Homo sapiens: one gene and its partners. The protein of the gene in region 3 purifies or fractionates together with the protein of the main gene of each other region. This does not show direct contact. Each region holds a gene or a part of one and is shown on either strand. Other genes may lie near its edges. The genes, in order: NDUFAF1, MACO1, TMEM169 and SLC38A10.

Region 1 (7,886 bases), on a different chromosome or scaffold from region 3:
CATGTATCCTGGATTTAGCAGACAGACGTGGTTTGAATCCCAGCTCTGCTACTTCAACAGCTGTGATAAGCATGTGACTAGCATGTTACTTAACATCTGTTTTCTTACCTGGGAAATAGGTGTAATATGAGTACCTACTTCACAGAATTGTTCTGACAATGAAAAGAGAAAATGCCTGAGAAGTGTTAAACTCAATGTCTAGCCTAGAAGCACTCATTACACCCTTCTTTGGGCCAGTCTTGTACCTAATACCTCCCTCTGCTATAGTTTCTAACTGTGCTGCAGTTATTTGTTTGATGACATGCCCTCTATTGGACTGTGTACCTGTTGAACACTGTCCTATAGTTCAGCAATAATAGCTAGCTTTTTTGTACATTTACCAAATAATTCCAATAATTATGCAAATATTTTACATATATTATTTGATTTAATACTGATTGGAAATGACATTAGGATCCTGCTTAACACAAACTCAGCAGCTTAAAAAAAAATTAAAGAAAAAGCTCTCCTGGCTGGGCACGGTGGCTCACGCCTGTAATCCCAGCACTTTGGGAGGCCGGGGCGGGTGGATCACGAGGACAGGAGATCGAGACCATCCTGGCTAACATGGTGAAACCCTGTCTCTACCAAAAAAAAAAAATCAGCTGGGTGTGGTGGCATGCACCTGTAGTCTCAGCTACTTAGGAGGGCAAGACAGGAGAATCGCTTGAACCCGGGAGGTGGAGGTTGCAGTGAGCTGAGATCACGCCACTGCACTCCAGCTTGGGCATCAGAGTGAGATTCGGTCTCAAACAAACAAACAAAAAAATACCCTCCTGGCCAGGCGCAGTGACTCATGCCTGTAATACCAGCACTTTGGGAGGCCAAGGTGGGTGGATCACTTGAAGTCAGGTGTTGGAGACCAGCCTGGCCAACATGGCGAAACCCTGTCTCTACTAAAACAACAAAACTTAGCTGGGCGTGGTGGCGCACCCCTGTAGTCCCAGCTACTCAGGAGGCTGAGGCAGGAGAATCGCTTGAACCTGGGAGGCAGAGGTTGCAGTGAGCCAAGATTGGGCTGCTGCACCTTGGCCTGGGTGACAGAGCAAGACTCCGTCTCCAAACAACAAAAACAGGCCGGGCGCGGTGGCTCACGCTTGTGATCCCAGCACTTTGGGAGGCTGAGGCGGGTGGATCACCTGAGGTCAGGAGTTGCAGACTAGCCTGACCAATATTATGAAACCTCGTCTCTACTAAAAATACAAAAATTAGGCAGGCATGGTGGCATGCACCTATAATCCCAGCTACTCGGGAGGCTCAGACAGGAGATTCGCTTGAACCCGAGAGGTGGAGGTTGCAGTGAACTGAGATTGCGCCATTGCACTCCAGCCTAGACAACACGAGGAAAACTCCATCTCAAAACAAGCAAACACACAAACAAAAAATGATCCTGCTACCTTCTAAGGTTGGCCAGGGCTGAACAACACTTCTGCCTCTTTTGTCACTGCCTGCAATATAGGGGACTACAGGGCTTCACCCATTCATATTCGGATTCAGAACAGCTTCAATGTCCTCTGGTCCCAGGCTTCTGAATGATGCTCTTACTGTTCATTTCCTTTTAGGCAGGGGCTTCTCTTTGTAGTTGCCTGCTCTTAGTTTCCCTCACTTTGTTCCCTTTGTCATATTATCATTTATGGCATTTGTCAGCCTTATGTCCACAAATAGATAGATGGTCCCCTGTTGTCTCCATGTCTAATTTGGATGGGTTTCAGTTGTTGTTGTTGTTGTTGTTTTCTTTTTTGAGGCAGAGTTTCACTCTTGTCGCCCAGGCTGGAGTGCAATGGCAAGATCTCAGCTTACTGCAACCTCTGCCTCCCAGGTTCAAGCCATTCTCCTGCCTCAGCCTCCCGAGTAGCTGGGATTACGGGTGCTCGCCACCACCCCTGGCTAATTTTTGTATTTTTAGTAGAGACAGGGTTTTACCATGTTGGCCAGGCTGGTCTCGAACTCCTGATCTCAGGTGATTCACCCGACTAGGCCTCCCAAAGTGCTGGCATTACAGGTGTGAGCTACCCTGCCTGGCTGGGTTTCAGTTTTGTTGTGAACAAAGGTATAGTTAAGATTTGGTGGAGCCCACTACCACTGTCTGGGAGGCCAAGGAAGAAGGTGCTACAGACATGGTTGGGTTAACCTACATAATCATTTCCCCTCAGCTCTTTGCCTTTATTTCCTTCCTTTATTTCCTATATTTCCTTCCCCTAGTGACTCTACCTTTTCTTCTGCCTGGCATTGTCATGTCCTTCCTTTCTATTTGAATATTTTTTTCTTTCTTCCAGCCTTCCTTTCTCCACTGGTAATAAATACATATGGGGCTTCCTATACTTAAGCAAACAGCCTGGCACAGTGGCTCACGCCTGTAATCCCAGCACCTTGGATGGCCGAGGTGGGTGGATCAACTGAGGTCAGGAGTTGGAGACCAGCCTGGCCAACATGACGAAACCCTGACTCTGCTAAAAATACAATAATCAGCTGGGTGTGGTGGCATGCACCTCTAATCCCAGCTACTCAGGAGGCTGAGGCAGGAGAATCACTTGAACCCGGGAGGCGGGGGTTGCAGTGAGCCGAGATCACGCCACTGCACTCCAGCCTGGGTGAGGAAGACTGTGGTTCAAAAAAAAAAAAGCAGCAAACAACTAATGATTAGAGACATGCAAATCAAAACCAAAATGAGATACCACTTCACACTCATTAGGATGGCTACTATATTTTAAAAACCAAAAAAACAAGAAACGTGTCAGTGGGCTTGGAAAGAAGGTGTGAAAAGATCAAAGATCAAAAACAGCAAGAGAATGCAACAGGATTTAAAATCAGTAAGAGAAGATTTTAAGGAGAGGAGCCAAGGACAGTCAAGCATTTCCATCCTAGAAGGATGTGGCCATTTACAGAAATAGGGAGACAGGAGGAATTAGTAGGAGGAAAAATGACACATTTAGTTTTAGACATTTAGTTTTCTTTATTGCTCAAGGATATTTCCTAAAAAACAACAACAAAAAGACATTTCGATTTTTTCTTTTTCTGAGACGGAGTCTGGCTCTGTGGCCCAGGCTGGAGTGCAGTGGTGCGATCTCGGCTCACTGCAAGCTCCGTCTCCCGGGTTCACGCCATTCTCCTGCCTCAGTCTCCTGAGTAGCTGGGACTACAGGCGCCCGCCAGCACGCCCGGCCAATTTTTTTGTATTTTTAGTAGAGACGGGGTTTCACCGTGTTAGCCAGGATGGTCTCGATCTCCTGACCTTGTGATCCGCCCGCCTCGGCCTCCCAAAGTGCTGGGATTACAGGCGTGAACCACCGCGCCCGGCCGATAACTTATATTTGAAACTAGAAAAGAGGTAGAGGCAGGATGGGCCATGGAGAGACAGCCCGCATTAAAGGTTGTGGGAAGAGAATAGAAGAGTCAGTGATGGGGGCAGAAAGGTAAGGTTTGAGGGGGCAAGTGTAGAGTCTAGAGAAGCCAAGCCGAATTTGAGGAAGAGGAGGCGGCGCGGAAACTAGTGAAGGAGAAAACATGGAAAGGGCTAGTGTATTTAGTGAGCTCCTTCGGAACCTTAGAGAACAAAGGTGTTACGGAACTATATGCTCTCAAATTCACACTAAGCACTAAATTCCCGCCGCTATGGTACATTCTGGGGAAAGGAAAAACAGCGCAGTCTGGACCCAAGAAAGCTCACAGCGTGGCAAAGGAAGTGAGAAGTGAGTGAAAGATACAATGTTGATTCTGTCTTCCCTGGCAGTAAGAAAAAAAAACAAAAACAAACAATGTTTAAGTGCTTTGGCCGGGCATGGTGGCTCACGCCTGTAATACCAGCACTTTGGGAGGCCGAGGTGGGTGGATCATGAGGTCAGGATTTCGAGACCAGCCTGGCCAACATGGCGAAACCCCATCTCTACTAAAAATACAAAAATTATCCGGGTGTGGTGGCACACACCTGTAATCCCAGCTACTTGGGAGGCTGAGGCAGGAGAATTGCTCCAACCCAGGAGTCGGAGGTTGCAGATCGCGCCACTGCACTACAGCCTGGGCAACAGAGTGAGACTCCGTCTCAAAAAAAAAAAGTGCTTTAAGAGAGGTGTGCACAAGGTACAAACAGATGCCCTGAGCAACTGGCGACCGTGTGGGGCGAGACTCGGGAAGGGCTGGTAGGAGGGGCTGCTGTCCAGGTGCGTGGTGGTCCTCAAGAATTCATGGGGGCAATTCCAGCAGAATCGGCCTTTTGAGGCCTCAGGCAGTTCTTGTGGGGACCGAGGCGACAGATAAGGAAGGAAGGGATACAGGCGCGTTAGCAATAACTGGGTTCTATTTGAAAGACGCAGGGGGCCGGGCTTGGTGGCTCGCGCCTGTAATCTCAGCACTTTGGGAGGCCGAGGCGGGTGGATCACGAGGTCAGGAGATCGAGATCATCCCGGCTAACATGGTGAAACCCCGTCTCTACTAAAAATACAAAAATTAGTCGGGCATGATGGCGCGCACCTGTAATCCCAGCTACTCGGGAGGCTGAGGCAGGAGAATCGCTTGAATCTGGGAGGCAGAGGTTGTAGTGAGCCGAGATCGCGCCACTGCACTCCAGCCTGGGCGACAGAGCGAGAATCCGTCTCAAAAAAAAAAAAAAAAAAAAAGACGCAGGGATGGAGTTTGCCGCCTGAAAGGATACAGGAAGGAGAGGCGAAAAACTTATCTGAATTCTCACTGCTTCCTTACAACTGGCGACCAAGTGGACCAAAAACCTCCAAAAACCTCAGTTGGCTGGGCTACGGGGTCCTTGCTGTCCTTCCTGGGCTTCTGTACTCGGCCGGAACTTTGGTGTTCTGACGCCTTGTTTGGCATCGGAAGGGAAAAGCAGATGGACCTATACGGGTAAAGTGGCTTCTGGGCGGAAGGTACACTATAGGCTCGGGGAGGTAAGCGGCGGCAGGCCGGCGGTTGGTGTGTCCCGGGTGTGGGGAGGCGACAGAGCCCTGGCACTTGAGGGTTGAGGGGGCCTCCCCAGCGCGGCGAACCGTCTAGCCTCCGGAGGCCAGGCCGTGAGTGCGGGAGGTATACGCCAAGGCGGAAGAATTTTGCCACTCACTACCTGTGTGACCTCGGGTAAATTAGCCTTGGAACGTCAGTTTCTTCGTCTCTATAATTGAAATAATAATAGTACCTCTCTCAGGATTGTTGTGAGCCGTCAGTGAAACACTTAGAGCAGTTTCTGGCACATGGTAAGGCATGGATAGCTTTACTAATTCTACTCACTTCTAGCTGCGTGGATTGTGTTGTCAAAACCCACCGTCAACCTCAGGGCGGTATTGTCCAGTTAATAGTTTAGATTTTCTGTTTACTGGTAGAAAAAAAAAAATGAAACAAAGCATTTATAATTAAAGTTATATTATTAGAGAAGTAACACTACGGAGGGTTTGGAAAACATTTTATGAGCTATCATTTGTTTCTCAAATTTCGGTATGTGTAGAGGTAAAATCATTTAAGTGCAACCGGCGCGGGGGAATTTAAATATTATCCATAATTCCGGGACCTCAGATCAACTGTTAATTTTTCCTGGTTCCCTTAACGTTTATAATACATGTGAAAACATACTGTTTACATGGTTTTGATTTATCAACAAACCTTATTGATAATGTCGGCTGGGCGCGGTGGCTCACGCCTGTAATCCCAGCACTTTGGGAGGCCGAGGCGGGCGGATCACTTGAGGTCAGGAGTTCGAGACCAGCCTGGCCAACATGGTGAAACCCTGTCTCTACTAAAAATACAAAAATTAGCTGGGCGTGGTGGCGCACGCCTGTAATCCCAGTGACTGAGGCAAGAGAATTGCTTGAAACCAGGAGGTGGAGGTTACAATGAGCCGAGATCGCACAACTGCACTCCAACTTGGGGGACAGAGCTGGACTCTGTCTTAAAAAAAAAAAAAAAAAAGTTGGGCATGGTGGCGGGCACCTGTAATTTCAGCCACTCGGGAGGCAGAGGCAGGAGAAGCACTTGAACCCGGGAGGCGGAGGTTGCAGTGAGCCAGGGTCGTGCCATTGCACTCCAGCCTGGGTGACAGAGCGAGACTCCATCTCAAAAAAAAAAAAAAAAAAAAAGGTTGGGCGCCGTGGCTGACGCCTGTAATCCCAGTACTTTAGGAGGCCCATGTAGGCGGATCACCTGAGGTCAGGAGTTCGAGACCACTCTGGCCAACATAGTGGAACCTCATCTCTACTGAAAAAACAAAAACAAAAACAAAAATTAGCCGGGCATGGTGGCGCCCGCCTGTAATCCCAGCTATTCAGGAGGCTGAGACAAGAGAATCGCTTGAACCCAGGAGGCGGAGATTGCAGTGAGCGGAGATCTCTAGCCTGGTGACAGAGCAAGACTCCGTCTCAAAAAAAAAAAAAAGTATTGATAATGTCATTTTACCTATTGGTGTCTGTATCCTACAGAAAGGAAATACGTATCTGACTTGTTTCATAGGATTTGTGTGTGGATGGCATGAGATAATATATATCAGGGTGATATGAAAGTGTTAGGAGTAGGCTGGGCATGGTGGCTCACACCTGTAATCACAGTACTTTGGGAGAACAAGGCAGGTGGATCACGTGGTCAGGAGATCGAGACCATCCTGGCTAACACGGTGAAACCCTGTCTCTATTAAAAATCCAAAAAAAAAAAAAAAAAAAAAATAGCTGGGCATGGTGGCGGGCGCCTGTAGTCCCAGCTACTCGCGAGGCTGAGGCAGGAGAATGGCGTGAACCCGGGAGGCGGAGCTTGCAGTGAGCCGAGATCGTGCCACTGCACTCCAGCCTGGGTGACAGAGTGAGACTCTGTCTCAAAAAAGAAAAAAAAAAGTATTAGGAGTGGTATTCATCAGGTGCAGTGGCTCACGCCTGTAATCCCAGGTACTCCAGAGGCTGAGGCAGGAGGATCACTTGAACCCAGGAGTTAGAGACTCGTCTGAGCAACATAACAAGACCTCATCTCTATTTTTTTTTTTTTTTTTTTGAGATGGAATTTTGCTCTTGTTGCCCAGGCTGGAGTGCAATGGCGTGATCTTGGCTCACCACAACCTCCACCTCCTGTTCAAGCTATTCTCCTGCCTTAGCCTCCCAAGTAGCTGGGACTACAGTTGTGCGCCACCACACCGGGCTAATTTTGTATTTTTAGTAGAGATGGGGTTTCTTCATGTTGGTCAGGCTGGCCTCAAACTCCTGACCTTGTCATCCACCCACCTTGGCCTCCCAAAGTGCTGGGATTACAGGCGTGAGCCACTGCGCCTGGCCTTACAATTTTTTATTTTTATTTATTTATTTTTTAGACAGAGTCCTGCTCTGTTGCCCAAGCTGGAGTGCAGTGGCTTGATCTTGGCTCACTGCAGCGTCCCACTCCTGGGTTCAAGCGATTTTCCTGCTTCAGCCTCCCGAGTAGCTGGGATTATAGGTGCTTGCCACCACCCTATAGGTGCCCGTCACCACACCCAGCTAATTTTTGTATTTTTTTTTTTTTTTTTTTTTTTTTTGAGAAGGAGTCTCGCTCTGTCGCCCAGGCTGGAGTGCAGTGGCGGGATCTCGGCTCACTGCAAGCTCCGCCTCCCGGGTTCACGCCATTCTCCTGCCTCAGCCTCCCGAGTAGCTGGGACTACAGGCGCCCGCCACTACGCCCGGCTAATTTTTTGTATTTTTTTAGTAGAGACGGGGTTTCACCGTTTTAGCCGGGATGGTCTCGATCTCCTGACCTCGTGATCCGCCCGCCTCCGCCTCCCAAAGTGCTGGGATTACAGGCGTGAGCCACCGCGCCCGGCCTGTATTTTTTTTTTTGAGACAGAGTTTCACTTTTGTTGCCCAGGCTGGAGTGCGATGGTGCAGTCTTGGCTCATTGCA
Region 2 (7,031 bases), on a different chromosome or scaffold from region 3:
TTTCGTATTTTTTTCGGTACTGTACTCCAGGCCATCATTCTAGTCCACTGACTTGACAGTAATTTTTCACTTGTCCCACCTGGCTCAAATTACTGTAACTTTACAATATATGACATTAGTTTAAATGACAAATATTTGGCTAAAGTATACACAGCCCATAAAACAGGCTACGTCCATAGCACTAGCACCTTTCCTATCATTCACTGCTATGAACAACAATCTGCAAGGCTCAGAGCCATGCAGGAGGGTCAGTCCCCTGGCAATAGAAAGAGGGTTGGGGCTAAAAGGAGGTGTGTAAGTTTCAAAGGACACTAATCTGGCCTATAACCTGAAAAAGTTAAATGAATCTACAGCAAGTTAAATCCTGGTATAAAACATACCAAGGGATTGTCAACATTTCTGGTTTGTATTAGAATCTGGCTACATTAATATGACTTGAAATGAGCTGGACAAGATTAGAACTTCAAATCTTTTTGTCACATAGAGATTTTTCAGATGCAATGAGATTTGATCTATATTAAAAGGCATCATCTCTACACTGCAACACAGAGCACAAGTTTAGCATAAAAGTGGAATTCAAATACAAGGGAAGTCTTTTGTTCCCCCCTTACCTGGACTTTTAGTTCTAGTTCTCTGATTTGGTCTTCTTTCACCTTCATGTCCATCGTGAGCTTCTTGCCCTCTGCTTCTAGTTCTCTGATCCGATTCCGTAAGGTTTCGGTGCATTCTCCCCTTTTGAAAAAGAAGAGAAGGAAATAAAGTGATTTAAAAGACTATAGGTTGGGGCTGGGCCCTGTGACTCAGGCCTGTAATCCCAGCACTTTGGGAGGCCGAGGCAGGCAGATTATTTGAGGTCAGGGGTTCGAGACCAACCTGACCAGCATGGTGAAACCCCGTCTCTACTAAAAATACAAAAAAAATTGGCTGGGCATGGTGGTACATGCCTGTAGTCCCAGCTACTGGGGAGGCTGAGGCAGAAGAATTGCTTGAACCCAGGAGGTGGAGGTTGCAGCGAGTCCAGATCGTGCCACTGCACTCCAGCTTGGGCGTCCGAGTGAGACTCCATCTCAAAAACAAATAAATAAATAAATAAATAAAATTTTAAAAAAGACTATAGGTTGGCCGAGTGCAGTGGCTCACGCCTGTAATCACAGCAATTTGGGAGGCCAAGGCAGGTGGATCACTTGAGGTCAGGAGTTCAAGACCAGCCTGGCCAACACAGTGAAACCCTCTCTCTACAAAAATTAGCTGGGTGTAGTGGCACACATCTGTAATCCCAGCTACTCGGGAGGCCGAGGCAGGAGAATTGCTTGTACCTGGGAGGCAGAGGCTGCACTGAGCTGAGATGGTGTCACAGCACGTTAGCCTGGGTGACAAAGTGAGACTCTGTCTCAAAAAAAAGAAAAAAAAAAGACTATAGGTTTACTTGTATTGTGGGATTTATATTTCTTTTAATTTCTTTTATACTCCAGGGTCTGTCAGGTTTTAGCTTTTGGCTCAGTCTGCTCAGTTCTCTGTGTCCTTTGATAATTTCAATAATACTCTAAAATAACTGGGCTGGGCATGGTGGCTCATGCCCGTAATCCCAGCACTCCCAAGGCCAAGGTGGGAGGACTGCTTGAGCCCAGAGTCTGAGATCAGCCTGGGCAACACAGAGAGACCCTGTCTCTACAAAAAATTTAAAAAATAGCTGGGCATAGTAGCACATGCCTGTAGTCCCAGCTACTCAGGAGGCTGAGGCAAGAGGACAACTTGAGCCCAGGAGTTTCAGGTTATAGTAAGCTATGACTGCACCATTGCACTCCAGTCTGGGTGACAGAATGATATCCTGTCTCAAAATACATACATATATACAATAATTATTACTGAGTGTCTAGATGAGCCAGACACTAAGGTACTTTACCCATACTACCTTCTTCAATCCTTATAACAACCTAGGGTATATTTATCCCATTTTCCAGATAAGAAAACTGAGGCTACATAGATAAAATACTAGTTCAAGGTTACCTAGCTTTTAGGTCTTAGAATAGGGATAAGAACTGAGATTTTCTGGCTTCCCAATCCAGCAAACTTCCCACCAGGCCATGAGACTTGAGACAATACACACAAAGCCAGATAGAACTGAACATGTACTATGTCCAGCAGGGGGCGGTGAACTAGAAAAAAATTTTCCCCCCACTTTTGAGGGGCTACGCATTGGGACTTTTGTCTTTCTTGTCATAAAGTTGCCACAAGACTGGAGTAAACAGAAAAATAAGGGCACACTGTTGAGCTGCTTCTCAGGGCTATCATAAGGTTGAGCTAAAAGAGATGATGGCAATGGCCAGTCCAAAGCTGGTACTGTCTAGGTTCCAGAAACAGCCCAATGAAGAAAGTAGGTGTTCTCTGCCTACCAAAACGGAAGGTCCAGTCAGAGATTTATGCCCTGAGATTTACTGAATAAATTATGGCAGGCCTGGTGTGGTGGCTCACGCCTGTAATCCCAGCACTTTGGGAGGTCAAGGTGGGCAGATCACCTGAGGTCAGGAGTTCGAGACCAGCCTGCCAAGATGGTGAAACCTCGTCTCTACTAAAAATACAAAAAGTTGCTGGGCACGGTGGCAGGAGCCTGTAATCCCAGCTACTTGGGAGGCTGAGGCAGGAGAATCGCTTGAACCTGGGTGGCAAAGGCTGCAGTGAGCTGAGATCGCGCCACTGCACTCCAGCCTGGGTGACAGAGTTAGACTCCGTCTCAAAAAGAAGGAAAAAAAGAATAAGTTATGAAAAACAAGGACTATCCAGGGATAAGATAAATAAGCTTAACTGGAAGCAAAAGGGATTTGGGGTAGACACTGAAATCAACTTACTGATTCTCAGGCATGGGAGACACTAAGCAATATCGTTAAGGAACTGCTATGTCCTCCTGAGTGGAATTTTTCAGAAAGGGCAGGTGCTGTATGAATTGAGGAGAGAGGAGAGCAGTCATCACTAGATGACTGTTCAAGAACATCTCCTGCAAGTTTAAGTGCTTCAGAATGCAAATACATCTTCAAACAAACAAACAATCCCACATTGTAGGCAGGCTAGTCAAGGGCCTTGTAAGTCTGTATAGATGCTGATGGGCCAAGCCAGCTCAGCCATCTGCTGGGGGGAGGCAGGATCACACAGGAGAGAGTTCTCACTTGCTGTTATTTCCTAAAAGGTGAAATGATTCACCAATTATTCTGCAAATGCCAGAACCCACAAAGAAGGCTATCAACATGCCAAAAGTTAAATTACTTAACTTTAATTACGACAAAGCAAAATTCAAGGAAAAATTACAGTTGAATTATACCACGTAGATACAAATTAGGATGGAATTTAAAAGTGAAATAAATAATAATTTACCCTCGCTCTATATCTGCAAACACCTAACTGATTCCCACATGCAGAGGGACTTCACTAGTCAAGAAAACAAAGGAAAAAGTGATAAGTGAAGTAGAAGCAAAAAGAAAAAAAAAGCTCTTAACTATCTAATAGTTTTTGGAATACTTGCACACAGGGGTACTTTCCAGTGGTATAGGAGGTAGTCCCCAATTTTCATTATGCCATAAATGTAATTCCATCTAGTAGAGACTTATGTTTCACTTTTTTTTTCCATTTCATTTGACAGTTTGCTGATATCCATTTGAGCAGCCAGTACACAGTGCTTGGGCAACCAAGATTTTATCTTTCTTCCATTTTAAGATAAAAACTTCAGAAACACATATACCTAAGAGTGGAGAGTAATGATAGCTCTCTAAAGGGAACGAACTTCCAGATAGAATCTCTCAATGCATTTAGTAATCATCAGTCTGACAAAAAGTGACTGGAAACCTTTTTATGAGCAGTACTTTGCCTCCCAGGTATGGGAAACATGGTGATTCCCTCATCCCACTTTATAGATGAGGTCACTGAGGGATAAAGCTGTTATAAGATAGTGCAAGCTTGCACACATGGAGTTTAAACCAGTTAATAAAACAGTACTTAAAAGCAATCCATCCGTGCATGATTGCTGTACGTCCAATCCTGCCCAAGGCACCAAATTCCCATGTCTTTGTTGGTAAAGGAAAGCCAACCTTGGATTAAACACTCAGGTGACATGGACATACCTAGATGCAGCAGCAAACGCAACAGCCCGGGCAGCAGTGGCTTCTTCTAACTTCTTCCTCTTTTTCTCTTCCATTAACTGTTTCTCTACAAAACTTCGGGCTTCCTGCTCAGCTTTTAGCTTTTTCTCCAACTGGCTGATATTCTGCTTGTCTTTTTGCTTCATTTGCACAGCATTATGTAACCTATATGGAAATGATTGTCATATAAAGTCTTAAAATTACAAATGCCCACTATAAACCCTTGAGAAACATCTCTTTATCACCTTAAGGCCAATTAAACAGGAGGTTTGAACAGCAAATCAAAAATGTCAATGCCCAGAATGCCTGAGGAAAACACACTGTTATTCTTTAATAATTCCTAAACACCAATAAACAAGCTGCCTTACAAAACAGAGATTAAGACCTAGCCTCTGCTCTGTTCAAGTAAGTGATCTACAAAAGGTCATCCAGAAAACAGGGTAAAACAAATTTTGAACAGAGGGGAAGATAATTGTAGAACTAATTCTAATGTTCCAGAGCACCCTGAAAGAACTTCAGTCCCACCAAAGAACCACTGATGGGACCAGCCCCAGTGAAACTAAGGTAAGGGGTGGAAAGGGGAAGGTTTTTATTTTTCCTGAATACAATTTTGCTGTAGCCTACTACAGCTTTTCCTTTCCAGCTCAGGATGTTTGCTCACAGTGTCCCCAAATCCTCTTTTAGAGTCACAGGATGCTTAATTTCAGATAGAAATTTCAGCCATATTTCCTGCTTACTACCACCCCCAGCTTTACCTATCAGCATGAGGTGAGTTTATCACTGGGATGTTCTCTACATATCAATGCTAGAACCACCACAAATGCTGGTCAGAGGCAATGGAGAGGTTATTTGCCTGTAATGCCCTAGCTTTTGAGTTACATTCCTTAAAAATGTTGAACTCCTCTTTCAACAGGGAAAGCCCAGAAAGCCAACAGCCTGTAATGATCATCACTACCACGGGCACACATTGCTGGGAGATTTAAAAAAAGAAAAAAGGACAGACCTACACTGAGTTAAGAAGTAATTCCAGAATGAACTAATCAAAAGCCTAAATGAATTCACACAGAAGACCTGGCTTTCTGCCTGCCTTTTCAAATAAAATCAAAGTTCAATGTCATCTTTTAGTTCTGGAAATAAAAGTAAATATAGTCAAATCCTCTAGAAATTTTCACTCAAAGGAGCAAAATTTTCAAAATGTGACAGAACTACTTCTTGTCAATTTTACTATCCAAAAACTCAATAACTATTTTAAACTAAGAAGTTATTAAATGAGAGAAGACAAAAACAGTAATATTAATAAACTGTTTTGTGGCAATGAAATAAGTTTTTATAGATTTTATAAACATGTTGAATATCTGGTACTAAATAAAGTATTTTAAACATTTTATTTAAAAACCTCTCAGCAGGTCTCTGTCACCATAAATCTTGTGCTCCAACCCCTGGCAACAGGAGAAGCAGTGAAGCTGCCGGGCTTACGGCCAAAGGCCTGAAAGGTGCACGTACTTGTTCTGCAGCAGCTCGTTCTCCTGCCGAAGCTGGCCCATTTCTGAGCGGATCCCTCGCTCGGTGCTCGAAAGGGAGCTGATCTGACTGCGGAGCTCTTGTTCCACTTGTCTGCTGGCTTGCAGGTCAGCCTTTAACTTTTTAATGTCTTGTTCCAGCCTAGGAGAATGAGAAATGCAGCATTTTCATCTAGGTGAGGGCACCCACAGAGCTGGGAGGGACCTGGTGGGGGTCCTGGACTGCTGGGTGAATGGCAGAAAAAGGACCCCGCTGGCAGTTCCTGCCATGATGAGGACTCCTGTCTGCAACTGGGTTAATTTTGTTGAATGATTCCACCTGGGTCCCTACCTCTTCCTACTGGGGTGTAACTTTCAACTTCCCCCTGTTTATGAATAGTGACAGGTGAGTATGGTGCTTGTGAATATCCATCCGAGCTGCTGATAAAGGAGAAAGGGACAGCAGAGAGGGTGGCTGAAGACTAAAGGCTCCCTTCTGGTGGCTTTTCATGCCCTCAGCAAGGGAAATATGTTCAAACAACTAGCACATGACCTACCACTTAATGCTTTGTGATATTTTGATAAATCAGAATCTACTGTCTGAGACTGCGTCCCACCATGGGCCTAGAAGAAAACGGTCTGCGACGACCTCCAGAAATTGCAGCATCCTTGCTGAATGACGTTCACAACTCTGGTGATTGCGGCAGAAGAGCTCACGAGACTCAATAACAATGAAAAAAGGAACAAATTACATGCTCTAAGAATCATAAGAGAACTCCATCTGTAAAATGAAGCCTATCTTTTCTCGTCAATTCCTTACTCTTGTTCCATCTATTTTCTTTACTGCAGTAATAGTTTCACTTTAAGTGACAGGTATTGGAGACCTACTATGCATATGTAGTGCTGAAAATGGTCAACAAAAACTATCGGCCAGGCGCAGTGGCTCATGCCTGTAATCCCAGCACTTTGGGAGCCCGAGGCAGGCGGATCACCTGAGGTCAGGAGTTCAAGACCGGCCTGGCCAACGTGGTGAAACCCCATCTCTACTAAAAGTACAAAAATTAGCTGGGCATGGTGGCGCGTGCCTGTAATCCCAGCTACTCAGGAGGCTGAGGCAGGAGAATCACTTGAACCCAGGAGGTGGAGGTTGCAGTGAGCTGAGATCATGCCACTGCACTCCAGCCTGGGTGACAAGAGTGAGACTCTGTCTCAAAAAACAAAAAACAAACAAACGAAAACTATAAAATCAAGTCTCTTTCTTCATGGGAAAACTTCACAATTAGGAACAAAGAAATAGGAACCAAGAAATACATAATTTAAATGATTAAACAATAAGACAAGGAAGGCCATGATTAAATATATGCCAGAAGGAATAATAACAACAGCTACTATTTAATGAGAACTT
Region 3 (4,396 bases):
TGATGGTCTCTGTGGTGTTTGCTGAGAGCAAAAATGAGATGCTTTGGTTCTGTTTGGTTCTGTTTTTCCTTCCTCTAGTCTAGGCTTTTACATACCTCTATAGAACCCCTTTGAAATGGTTTTAATTTACAAGCCTATTTCTTCCACTAGATGATGAGCCCAACTAGGATGAAGGCCATGTCAACTTTATCTAGGTATCTCTTGGGTATGATCTCATCATCATCCCACACTCTTCCATGGCACCACAGCCACTTTACCTGTGTCCTAATCACAACTTTTTGGCTTTTCCCATTGGTTTCCCCAACCCCAGAAAAATGGGACAAATGTGGTTGCAAGTTTCTAGTGTGGTTTGTGAAAACAGTCCACCTAAATAGAATTCCCCAAAATTAGTGAAGCATGGAAAGAGTCCAGACACAAGGATTCATATTAAAATCATTACATACATATAGGACAGCCATCATGCTCACCCTTTTTCTGCAAACCATAGCATTCAAAGCAATTTTGAAGAGCCTCAAAGACAAAATGAGCAAAAGTTAATCAGACTTTATTTTTATTTTCTTTGTCTTCATTTAATTGTTCATATCTCTGCTAATGCACCATAGAGCACCAAGATTAACACTAAAACTGTTGGGCACTTTTTTTTTCTTGTCAAGCTAATAATAGTTATTTAAAAAAAAAAAAAAGAGAGAGTTCCTCTGAAGGTGGAGCTCAGCACCATACATCAGGCAAATGTCCTGGGCTCTCTGTGGGGAGCATGACAAACTCCTCTGGTTTGATTCATCGCAGCAGTTCTCTCAACAGCTTTGTTTTGAGACATGAACAAGAAAAGAGCACCAGCTATTCTTATAAGGACCCAAATCTCCAAATTCTGCTGACCTCTTAGGAGTTGATATTTTGAAATTAGAAGGACACCCTTAGGAGTGATTTTTTTTTTTAAGTTCAGAGTCTGTTAATCTGTATTAATCTAGTTTACACTCCCTACAGGCCAGGTAGACACAAGTTTCTCAGCACAGCAAAGATCATGTCTGTGGTTAAACTCAGAAAGGTCTGAGGGAGTAAAGCTCTGAGTGAGGTTTTGCCAAACAACAGAAGGCTAAATCTGGCTTCTTTGTACTTAGGGCTACTGATCGCTGTTGGAGGAAACTTTGGCAGATGCAATTCCTCCCTTCCTGGTCTTTAATCTAGGTTAAATATCACCACCTCGTCCCACCTCCACCACCAGGACAAAGAGTTATGCTACTATTATAAATTGTACTCTCCTGTCCACTATTCCTTTCCAAAAACAAATCACATGACATTACAGAAGCTTAATTGCAAAGTACGTGAGGTGCTAATATCGATGTATAGCATATTCAAAGTATATGTAGCTAATATCTATATATAAATTCTCTGTGTAAGATTCAGGCCTAAATAAATAAATGAATAAACAAATGAATGAATAAATAAATAAATAAAACCATATTAGCAGTTTGGGGGTTCTGAATGTATTTAAATGATCATTGTGAGGCAAAGATTCTGACTTGCCTACCAAGATAACCATTCTTGCCTACAATCCCAGCATTTTGGGAGGCCGAGGCAGGCGGATCACCTGAGGTCAGGAGTTCAAGACCAGCCTGGGCACATGGTGAAACCCCATCTCTACTAAAAAAAAAATACAAAAATTAGCCGGGTATGGTGGCACGCACCTGTAATCCCAGCTACTGGGGAGGCCAAGGCACAAGAATTGCTTGAACCCAGGAGGCGAAGGTTGCAGTGAGCCGAGATAGTGCCACTGCACTCCAGCCTCGGCAACAGAGTGAGACTCCGTCTCTAAAGCGAAACAAAACAAAACAAAACAAAACCCAAATAACCATTCTTCCTTTTTCTTGCCAATTAGCGTGAACCCAGTATTTAGCTGAGAATATAGCTACCCAGCCAAACAACTACATTTCCAGCCTCTTTTGCTCATGACATCATGTGACTGAGGTCTTGCCAATGAGATATAAGAAGAATCGAGTGGGACTTCTGGGAAGTCTCCTTGAACAGGAAGGGTGTGTGCTTCTCTGCCCTTTCCTCTATTTTATCAGAAACATGGATGTGATGGCTGAAGATGTAATCAGCACTGGGATGTTGGGGATAAGGGTGAGAAGGGTCACATCCTACTAATGGTAGAGAAATAGAAGAAGCCTGGGACCTGGATTACTTCACAGGGTCCCAGGATGGTCTGCCTCCAGACTTCTTCTGCACAAGAAAGAAATACACTTCTATCTTGTTTAAGCCACTGATATTTTAGGGTTTTAATTCTATGCAGCTAAATCTAAATCTAAATGATACACACAAATCTTTACCTTCTGCTACACTGTGGTAGTCCAGCTTCCTAAATGTCTCACTCCATCCCTGTCTATTATCTTGGTGGATTTGGTTACCCCGAGGTTCTTTATTCTCCCTGACACATTTAGTCACATACTCCCCTCAGTTCCAGGCACCAGTAACACTTCCAGGCTCCCAAAACGACACACAGCAGAGTTCCATTGTCCTAAATAAATGGTGATTTTAGGGCAGGGAATCAAAAAGAGTTTGTCCATTGGGTGAACTGCTTTGGCACAATTGCTTGTCTGCTCCATGCCCTCCTGGAACCCTCAAGATGGTAAAACTGATCAGTATGGACTCTGATTTCCCAGAAGAACTGCGGAGAGTAGGGGGTAATTTAAAGAAATAATCTGCTGGAATTTTAAGATGATATATAGGCTACTGGGGCCAGAGGAGGGAGTAAGTTGTTGGGAGTTTAGACCGTGGAGGTTTCTACTTCTTGGATGGGGTCCTTGTTGGAGAGAGTGCTTGAGATATTGTCGGATTCAAGCAACTCCACAATGCTGTAGGGAGAACAGTCCTCCAGACCCAGCTTGCTGCAGAGCCAGCCACAGAAGCCTTTCTCCATGTCCCGGGCAGCTTGCCACCATGCTTCCCAGGACCACGAGAGCTGGACCACAGCAGCGTAGAGGCCGAGGGAAGAAGCCATGGCCATGATGAGCACTGGATAGAAGAGAACGAGGCAAGGGCAATACGAGATCTTGTGCCAGAAGGTCCTTTCCTCATTATACACGAGGAAGATGTTGTACCAGGTGATAGTGCCGTAGTAGAAAGAGACAACAAAAGAAAGGATGAAAACCACAGGCAGGCAGATCAGCGTCCAGAGGACCACATGGGGCCCACGGTCAGCTCCCATCTGGCAGGCCATTCTTCCTTCAGGCGTCGTTTCCCTTGATGACTCTTTAGGTTTGGTCAGTTCCTGCAGCTCTTTCTCTGTCAATGTGACATGGATGTCCACCATCTGACCCTTTTTCTTCCCTCGTGTGATGGTCCCAGTTAAGGTGACGTAGCGGCTGTCCAGAGGCAGGTTCCACATATCTGCAGGGTACAAAGGAGGTGAGAGTCAAGATCAGAAGAGTGGGCATTGCATCTCCATGTTGCACCCTCCCAGGCTGGGCATGAGGACAAGAGTAGCCTTTTTTACACCATCTGGCACAGTCCTGAGTCAGTGATTCAATGGCGGACTGAGTGGGTCTCCCTCGGGAGAGTGACCACTGGTGTTATTGCTCCCACATGAACTCTCAGTCCTTGTGCCTGGGCCCTGATAAAATTGTGAGGCAGGTTAAGCTTTTCACCTACTCTCTCCGCTTTTTGGGGCCTCAATCTTGGCACAATCTCTGTGGCACGGAGGAGTGTGACGAACTTTGATACAGACATGATGCAAATGATGATCCTATTTCTAGGTAACAAGTGCTGTGAAGATACTGGACTGATGGACGGCCACCACCTTCCCTTCTCATGCCTAGTTCTGTGCTTTCTGAGAGGGGGCCCCTCACATGCCTGATCCAGCCCTCACATCCAGGGGCTGCACGCATACACACATGCATCCCACATATACCATACACATACACCCTCTCACATACTACATACACACCATACACACACATACACATGCCACCTCCCAATCACGTACCACATACACACACTACACTATCCCATACACACACCACACACCACACACCATGCACATCACACATACCACATACACACCACATACCCACACCACATATACCAAACACCATACATAACACATACACCACACACATGCCACACACAACCTCCCCACACATACCACATACAACACATACACATACCATATACACACCACATACCCATACATATCACACATACATGCAACATACACACATAACACACCACACACACACATACACATCACACACACCACACATACACACAGCATACATGCACACAAATGCTGCCCCCCACACATTCCACATATATACACTACACATACCCACCCACATGCCGTATGCACACACCACATATATACACATTCTACACACACACCACATACCCATACATACCA
Region 4 (7,044 bases), on a different chromosome or scaffold from region 3:
GCTAATTTCTGTATTTTTAGTAGAGATGGGGTTTTATCATCTTGGCCAGGCTGGTCTTGAACTCCTGACCTCGTGATCCACCCTCCTCAGCCTCCAAAAGTGCTGGGATTACAGGCGTGAGCCAACACGCCCAGCTATGTATATATATAAATATATCAAAACTACTAAAACAAAAAAAAAAACACTAATCCAAAGTTTTTCAATGCCAAGGCTGCCAAACACTAAACACACACATCCCCAAATCGCCTGCTGGCGTCTCCCTGCGCCCCAGTCCAAGAAGGCTGCCGTGGAGGAGACGCTGCGGCCAGATCAGAGCAACTGGGCCTCCCTCTGGGCAGCCCTCAGGACTCAGAAGGACGTCTCTAGTCCTTCACTTCCTGACAGGTCTGTGCAGATGCCCGGCTAATCAGCACATGCTCTGGCAGGGGCCTAATGTCCACCACATGGCAGGTGGTCCAAGGCTCGAGATAGCTGGATCGTCTGGGCCCTAAGATGTACTTTCACAGGTGTCTAAACCAGAGCCCCTTCCACGGTGGCACTTCACCGACAGGCATCAAAGATGACAGCATTTGGGGCCAGGCACGGTGGCTCACGCCTGTAATCCTAGCACTTTGGGAGGCCGAGGTGGGTGGATCACCTGAGATCAGGAGTTCGAGACCAGCCTGACCAACATGGGGAAACCCTGTCTCTACTAAATACAAATAAATAAATAAATAAATAAATAAATTAGCCGGCGTGGTGGCACATGCCTGTAATCCCAGCTACTTGGGAGGCTGAGGCAGGAGAATCACTCGAACCCTGGAGGCAGAGGTTGCAGTGAGCCGAGACTGCACCACTGCACTCCAGCCTGGGTGACAGAGCGAGACTCCGTCTTGAAAAAACAAAGATAACAGTCTTTGACTTGCAGGAGAAGGACCAGCTACTGCTCCACATGCCAGAATGCAGTTCTGCTGCCAGGCAAGTCACAGTGGACACTGGGACATGGAGTCAGTCCAGAAACACCCAGAGGTGGCTGGCAGAAAGCTGGGATTCTCCACGCCCAGACCAGATGCTGCCCGGGGGGCTCTGGAGGCATGTAGCCCTGTCTTCCCCTGACAGGCTCACCAACCATATCAGGCAAACAACTCAGACACAACAGCCTGGAGGGCTGCACGGGAGGGTTTGAAAATTCCTTGATCAAAAAAAAGTTGTTTTTTTTTTAGAGATGGGGTACTGTTGTGTTGCCCAGGCTGGAGTGCAGTGGTGCAATCATAGCTCACTGTAATCTCAAACTCCTGGGCTCAAGTGATCCTTCTGCCTCAGCCTCCCGAGCAGCTGAGACTACAGGTATGCACCACCATGCCCAGCTAACTTTTAATTTTTTTTGTAGAGACGGGGTCTTACTATGTTGCCCAGGCTGAAAAAATTTTTTGGATATTTTTATTCCAAAGATAATGAATATGAAAAACACAGTGTTTGCTAAGCTAATCTAAAATTAAACTACTGGTGCCACTTTGTTTCAAAATATACATGTTGTTTTCATTTTTCTACCTACTTGGTAACGTTTCAGTCAGCCTTTCTTTTCCAAAGCACTAAATGCTTGTTTATTGTAGATTAAACAGATGACACTTAGAAATGGCCATTTTCTTTCATGTGTTATTCAATGCTGGAATGACGCTAAACTTTTTGTATTTGAGATTTTTTCCAACTGTGGTAACGTCTGCACACATTAGATCAAATGTGCAGTTTTTTGTTTTTGTTTTTGAGACGGAGTCTCCCTCTGTCGCCCAGGCTGGAGTGCAATGGCGTGATCTCGGCTCACTGCAACCTTCGGCTCATTGAAACCTTCGCCTCCCAGGTTCAAGCTATTCTCCTGTCTCAGCCTCCCAAGTATCTGGGATTACAGGCATGTGCCACCACCCCCGGCTAATTTTTGTATTTTCAGTAGAGATGGGGTTTCAGCATGTTGGTCAGGCAGTTCTCGAACTCCTGACCTCAGGTGATCCACTCGCCTCGGCCTCCCAAAGTGCTGGGATTACAGGTGTGAGCCACCACCCCCTGCCAAATGTGCGGTTTTTGTGAAACGCAGATCTTAGGTGTATAACCTGGTGGATGTTTTTAATCACCTTGCAACCAAGGTCCCTATCTAGTGTCGAAGCCTGGGAGTGGTGAGTTGTGTGCTTCTGAAGACAGGTGCAGTTGGGTCAGAGTTTTTAAAAACACGATAAAATGTAAAAATACGGAGTCCCACCGTTCCCTTCCGATTCTGGAGGATCATTTTGCTTTGTTACACTTTGCTTCGGTATCGAGTTTTTGAGTGTGGGGAACTTTCCGGCCCGGGCTGACAAGGGCTGCCAGGGCCAACGCCGTGCGCTTCTCATCCACGGATTCTCTACGGGAACTGCGCCGGGACCCAGAGGGTCGCCCCGCCCGCGGCCGCCTGCACCCGCCCAGCGAAGCCCTGCCCCGGCGGGAACTTTAACCAGGACGACCCAGCCAGACGCCCCCTCTGCGGGGGAGGCGAGGGCGGTGATCTCCGGGCCCACCGGACTCACCTGTTTGAAGCAGAAGGGCATGGTGAGGACACTGACCCCTACGATGCTGTTCACGATGTTCGTGATCAGCCCCCAGTTGGAGGCGGCGGCCGCGGTCATAGTGAGAGGTCTAGGGGCCCGGGGCGAGAGGCCTCGGGGGTCGCCGGGCTGCGGCCGGCTTTGGAAGCCCAGCCCGAGGCCACGGTCACAGGTCCCAACGTCCGGGACGCCGGTGGGGAGGGGATGGGCAGCCTGAACACGGGAGCCTGAGCAGGCGCGGGCGCGGGCCCCAGAGGCTGCCTGGAGGAGGCAGCCTCGAAGGCCGGCTGCGGGGGCGAGGTCAACCTCCGGACCCCGCCAAGCCCTGCGGCCGCCTCAGGGCCATGCGTCCCTCGCTCGGCCTCGCGGGCCGCCTGTGAATCTCCGAGCCCAGACCCGGAAGAGCCGCAGAGCCAGCTAGGGACACCTCAGCCCAACTCAGCTGCCGCCGCGGCGCTCACACTTCCGCCTTCCACGGGCTCCGTTGCCCGGAAGTGACGGCCAGGGGGTAGGGTTTGGTGGGACGCGAGCCAATGAGAGGCGGGCCCGGAGGGGCGGGCGGAAACTGGGCCGGTGGGCACCTGAGGGTCTCGCAGCTGTCCGGTTCGCCAAGCTGGTCCAGCCGACCTGTGCCCGGGGCCCCAGTTCAACGAGCTGGAGGACAAGGGACTCGCCCCGCGAGGCCTCGGTTTGGATGGGCAGTCGCGGGCTGGAGAGAAGGGGAGGCGCTGTGCCTTCCGGGGAGGAGCGGGTTTAAGGGTTCCTTTTTGACCTTTATTCCCAGGACCGATTCTGGGGCGAGTGCTTGGCGCCAGGGCACGGGGGCGGGGGCCCTGACTGCCTCAGCCGAAAAATAGTCTGTTGTGAGGAATTAGCACCTAGGAGGTAGGAATGAAACGCTGGGCACAGAGAGGCTCGGCCACTCCGCTAAGGCCACACAGCTCCAAGGGGAGGCGGTGCCCTGCCGAACTGCGCCCAGATCAGTGGCAATGTTGAACTTCACCTTTTCACACGAAAAGAGCAAGGGACATTCCTGGAGGGGACAGGAGAGGTGGAGGCTTACATGAACAGGGAAACCCGGGAGGGCTTCCAGAAGGAGGTGGCTTCTAGGCTGGAGCTTGAAGGACAAATGAGAATTCCTCGGGTAGAAATGGAGACCGGGGAGAGGAGAGAACAGAGAAGGGTCCCGATAGATCTGTGGATTCCTGGCACCTAGCTGCTCACTCTGAGTCTAATGAATGAGCGCGTAGACCGAATGGCTGGGAAGCAGCAAGTGATTCCAGGCTGCTGGGGGAGGACGGCGGAGGAAAGGAGGCCGTGTCTGCAGCACCTGCAGGACCAGGTGTCTTAGAACAGAGGCCCGTTCCTCAGGCACTGGCAGTGCAGCCACCAAGTAAGGCTGTGCCCCACCTTCAGGAGAACAGGAGGAAATGCCTGGGTAAAGACTAATTAAATACGCAGGCAAAATAACAAATGCCTGCGTTCTTTTTTTTTTTTTTCTTCAGTCAGAGTCTTGCTCTGTCGCCCAGGCTGTATATGCAGTGGTGTGATCTTGGCTCACTGCAACCTCCACCTCCCAGGTTCAAGCTATTCTCATGCCTCAGCCTCCCAAGTAGCTGGAATTACAGGCTCCCGCCACCACACCCGGCTAATTTTTGTATTTTTAGTAGAGACCAGGTTTCACCATGGTGGCCAGGCTTGCCTCAAACTCCCGACCTCAGGTGATCCGCCCACCTCGGCCTCCCAAAGTGCTGGTATTACAGGCATGAGCCACCGCACCCAGCCCATTTACTTTTATATAAATGAAATGGCATACACATTCCATAACCTCCTTTTTATTATGTAATTTTCATCAAATGTTATGCATGCGAGGTAGGCTGGGCAATTTACATGTATGTTTTCACAAATAGCAAATACCATGGACCCGCTATTGAGCTTTAAGAACAAAATATTACCGAAGACTTAGATCCTCCCTTTCAGTTCCTCCCCAGTTCCAGCACCTTCTTCCCCTCTTCCCTGCTATCCTGAGACATCACAATCCAGATTCCATCAATTCATTACTTTTCTTTAAAGGTTTACCATATATGGATATATCCCTAAACAATTATGGGGAAGACTATTTGTCTCTTTTTTTTTTTTTTTTGAGACAGAGTCTCACTCTGTCACCCAGTCTGGAGTGCAGTGGCACAATCTCAGCTTGCTTCAGCCTTTCCCTCCTGGGCTAAAGTGATCCTCCCACTTCAGGCCCTCAGTAGCTGAAACTACAGGTGTGTGCCACCATGCCCAGCTAATTTTCACTTTTTTTGTAGAGATGGGATTTTGTCATGTTGTCCAGGCTGGTCTCAAACTCCTGGGTTCAATCGATCTGCTCACCTCGGCCTCCCAAAGTGCTGGGATTACAGGCGTGAGCCACTGCGCCCAGCTGACTCTCTGTCTCTTAATATTCGTTTATTCCATTTTCCAAATTAATAGGAATTGGCCTGCACGTATGACTGCCTAGGATAAAAAATACACTTCCAGCCGAGCATGGCGGCTCACACCTGTAATCCCAGCACTTTGAGAGGCCGAGGCAGGCAGATCACGAGGTCAGGAATTTGAGGCCAGCCTGGCAAACATGGTGAAACCCCATCTCTGCTAAAGATACAAAAAATTAGCCAGGCGTGGTGGCGCGCACCTGTAATCCCAGGTTCTTGGGAGGCTGAGCCAGGAGAATCGCTTGAACCCGGGAGGCAGAGGTTGCCGTGAGCCAAGAGCGTGCCATTGCACTCCAGCCTGGGCAACAGGGCAAGACTTTGTCTCAAAAAAATAAATAAAAGACTGGGCGCGGTGGCACACGCCTGTAATCCCAGCACTTTGGGAGGCCAAGGTGGGTGGATCACGAGGTCAGGAGATCGAGACCATCCTGGCCAATATGGTGAAACTCTGTCTACTAAAAATACAAAAATTAGCCGGGCGTGATGGTGTGTGCCTGTAATCCCAGCCACTCAGGAGGCTGAGGCAGGAGAATCGCTTGAACCAGGGAGTCGGAGGTTGCAGTGAGCCGAGATCGCGCCACAGCACTCCAGCCTGGCGACAGAGTGAGACTCCGTCTCAAAAAAAAAAAAAAAGAATACACTTGCCAGTGTCCCTTGCAGGTAGGGCTGGCTATGTGACCAAGTTTTGGACAATAAGAAGCAGAAATGACAGGAGAAACTTCTAGGTCATTTCTTAGGAGGGGGTCTGCCGCTCCTTCATCATGCTGTTTGGAACCTAGACACGATGGTAGGAAGCCATCTCGGACAGTGCAGACAAGGGTGATACCGTGGCAGAGTGGAGCACCAAGCTAGAAGGATCCTGGATCCCTGGACAACTCATGGAGCCAAGCCACCATGCCCATCCACGACTACCTCCTCCCAGCTGCTCTGGGAGGGAGAGACAAACCTGCTCCTTGCGCTCACCATGATTTTGGACTCTGTTTCATGAACCCAAAGCTGTAGCCTACCTAGTTCAGTAGTGTATTGGGATGGGGCACCTTTGCATTTTGGACTATTGTAAGAATTGAATTACATATATGTGCTATTCTGCAACTTTCTTTTTCACTCAACTTTGTCACACTTAAATTTCTTTTTTTGTCTTTTTTTTTTCCTTTTTGTGGAGAACGGGGTCTCACTGTATTGCCCAGGCAGGTCTCGAACTCCTGGGCTCAAGCCGTCTTCCTGCCTCTGCCTCCCTGAGAGCTGGGATTACAGGCATGAGCCACCACACCCGGCCAGTTCAACTTTGTTCACAAGAATTGCCATCATGTTGCATGTGCTCTGAGTCTCATTCTTGCTGCTCTGTGGAACTCCGTTACTTAAATAGCCCAGATCCGCATCCATTCTCCTGCCGAGGGCACCTGAGTTGTGTCCAGTCACTTGCCTCAGAGACAGTGATCCAGTGAACAGATTTGTCTCCTGAACGTGTGTTTGTTCAAGTCTCTCTAGGGTAAACACCTACAAGTGGAACTGCAGAGTATGCGTATGCATACCTAAATGACTTTACTAGATCTTGCCAAATTGCTCTTCAAAGTAGCTATAAGAGCTCTTCCTGGTTTACAGCAAAGGTTGGCAAACTTTCTATTAAGAGTCAGACAGTAAATATTTTTTGCTTTGCGGGCCTAATGGTCTCTCGCAAATATTCAGTTGTGTCATTAGTCTCTCGCAGTGCCAAATGGTCTCACAAATATTCAGTTCTGCCATGGCAGATCAGAAGCAGCCAGAGACAATATGTAAACAAGTGGGCATCTCTGTGTTCCAATAAAACTTTATTTACAAAAACAGCAGCTGGCCCAGTGCGGCCTCAGGGCTTAGCTTGTGGGCCTCTGCTCCAACATTTGGTTATTGTCAGTTTGGCCAGTCCGGTGAATGAAATGGAATCTCTTTGTGGCTCTAATTTGTTCTTATTACAAATTAGGTGAATTATTTATTCATATTTTTATTGTCCATTTTTCTTCTGTGAAATGCTTACTCATTTT

What was found.
Region 1: the proteins of TMEM169 (region 3) and NDUFAF1 purify together in Homo sapiens (co-immunoprecipitation; 2 studies listed by BioGRID and IntAct, with this or other methods). This does not show direct contact.
Region 2: the proteins of TMEM169 (region 3) and MACO1 purify together in Homo sapiens (co-immunoprecipitation; 2 studies listed by BioGRID and IntAct, with this or other methods). This does not show direct contact.
Region 4: the proteins of TMEM169 (region 3) and SLC38A10 purify together in Homo sapiens (co-immunoprecipitation; 2 studies listed by BioGRID and IntAct, with this or other methods). This does not show direct contact.

What each region holds. Positions count from the first base shown.
Region 1 is NC_000015.10:41,399,495-41,407,380, reverse strand, and holds the start of NDUFAF1 (complex I intermediate-associated protein 30, mitochondrial precursor), read left to right. Parts: upstream 1-4,884; 5' UTR 4,885-5,237; intron 5,238-7,886. UniProt on the Homo sapiens protein: As part of the MCIA complex, involved in the assembly of the mitochondrial complex I.
Region 2 is NC_000001.11:25,482,874-25,489,904, reverse strand, and holds part of MACO1 (macoilin), read right to left. Parts: intron 5,790-7,031; coding exon 5,631-5,789; intron 4,293-5,630; coding exon 4,110-4,292; intron 733-4,109; coding exon 612-732; intron 1-611. UniProt on the Homo sapiens protein: Plays a role in the regulation of neuronal activity.
Region 3 is NC_000002.12:216,098,911-216,103,306, reverse strand, and holds the end of TMEM169 (transmembrane protein 169), read right to left. Parts: intron 3,388-4,396; coding exon 2,765-3,387; 3' UTR 524-2,764; downstream 1-523.
Region 4 is NC_000017.11:81,292,289-81,299,332, forward strand, and holds the start of SLC38A10 (solute carrier family 38 member 10), read right to left. Parts: upstream 3,020-7,044; 5' UTR 2,634-3,019; coding exon 2,535-2,633; intron 1-2,534. UniProt on the Homo sapiens protein: Facilitates bidirectional transport of amino acids. May act as a glutamate sensor that regulates glutamate-glutamine cycle and mTOR signaling in the brain. The transport mechanism remains to be elucidated.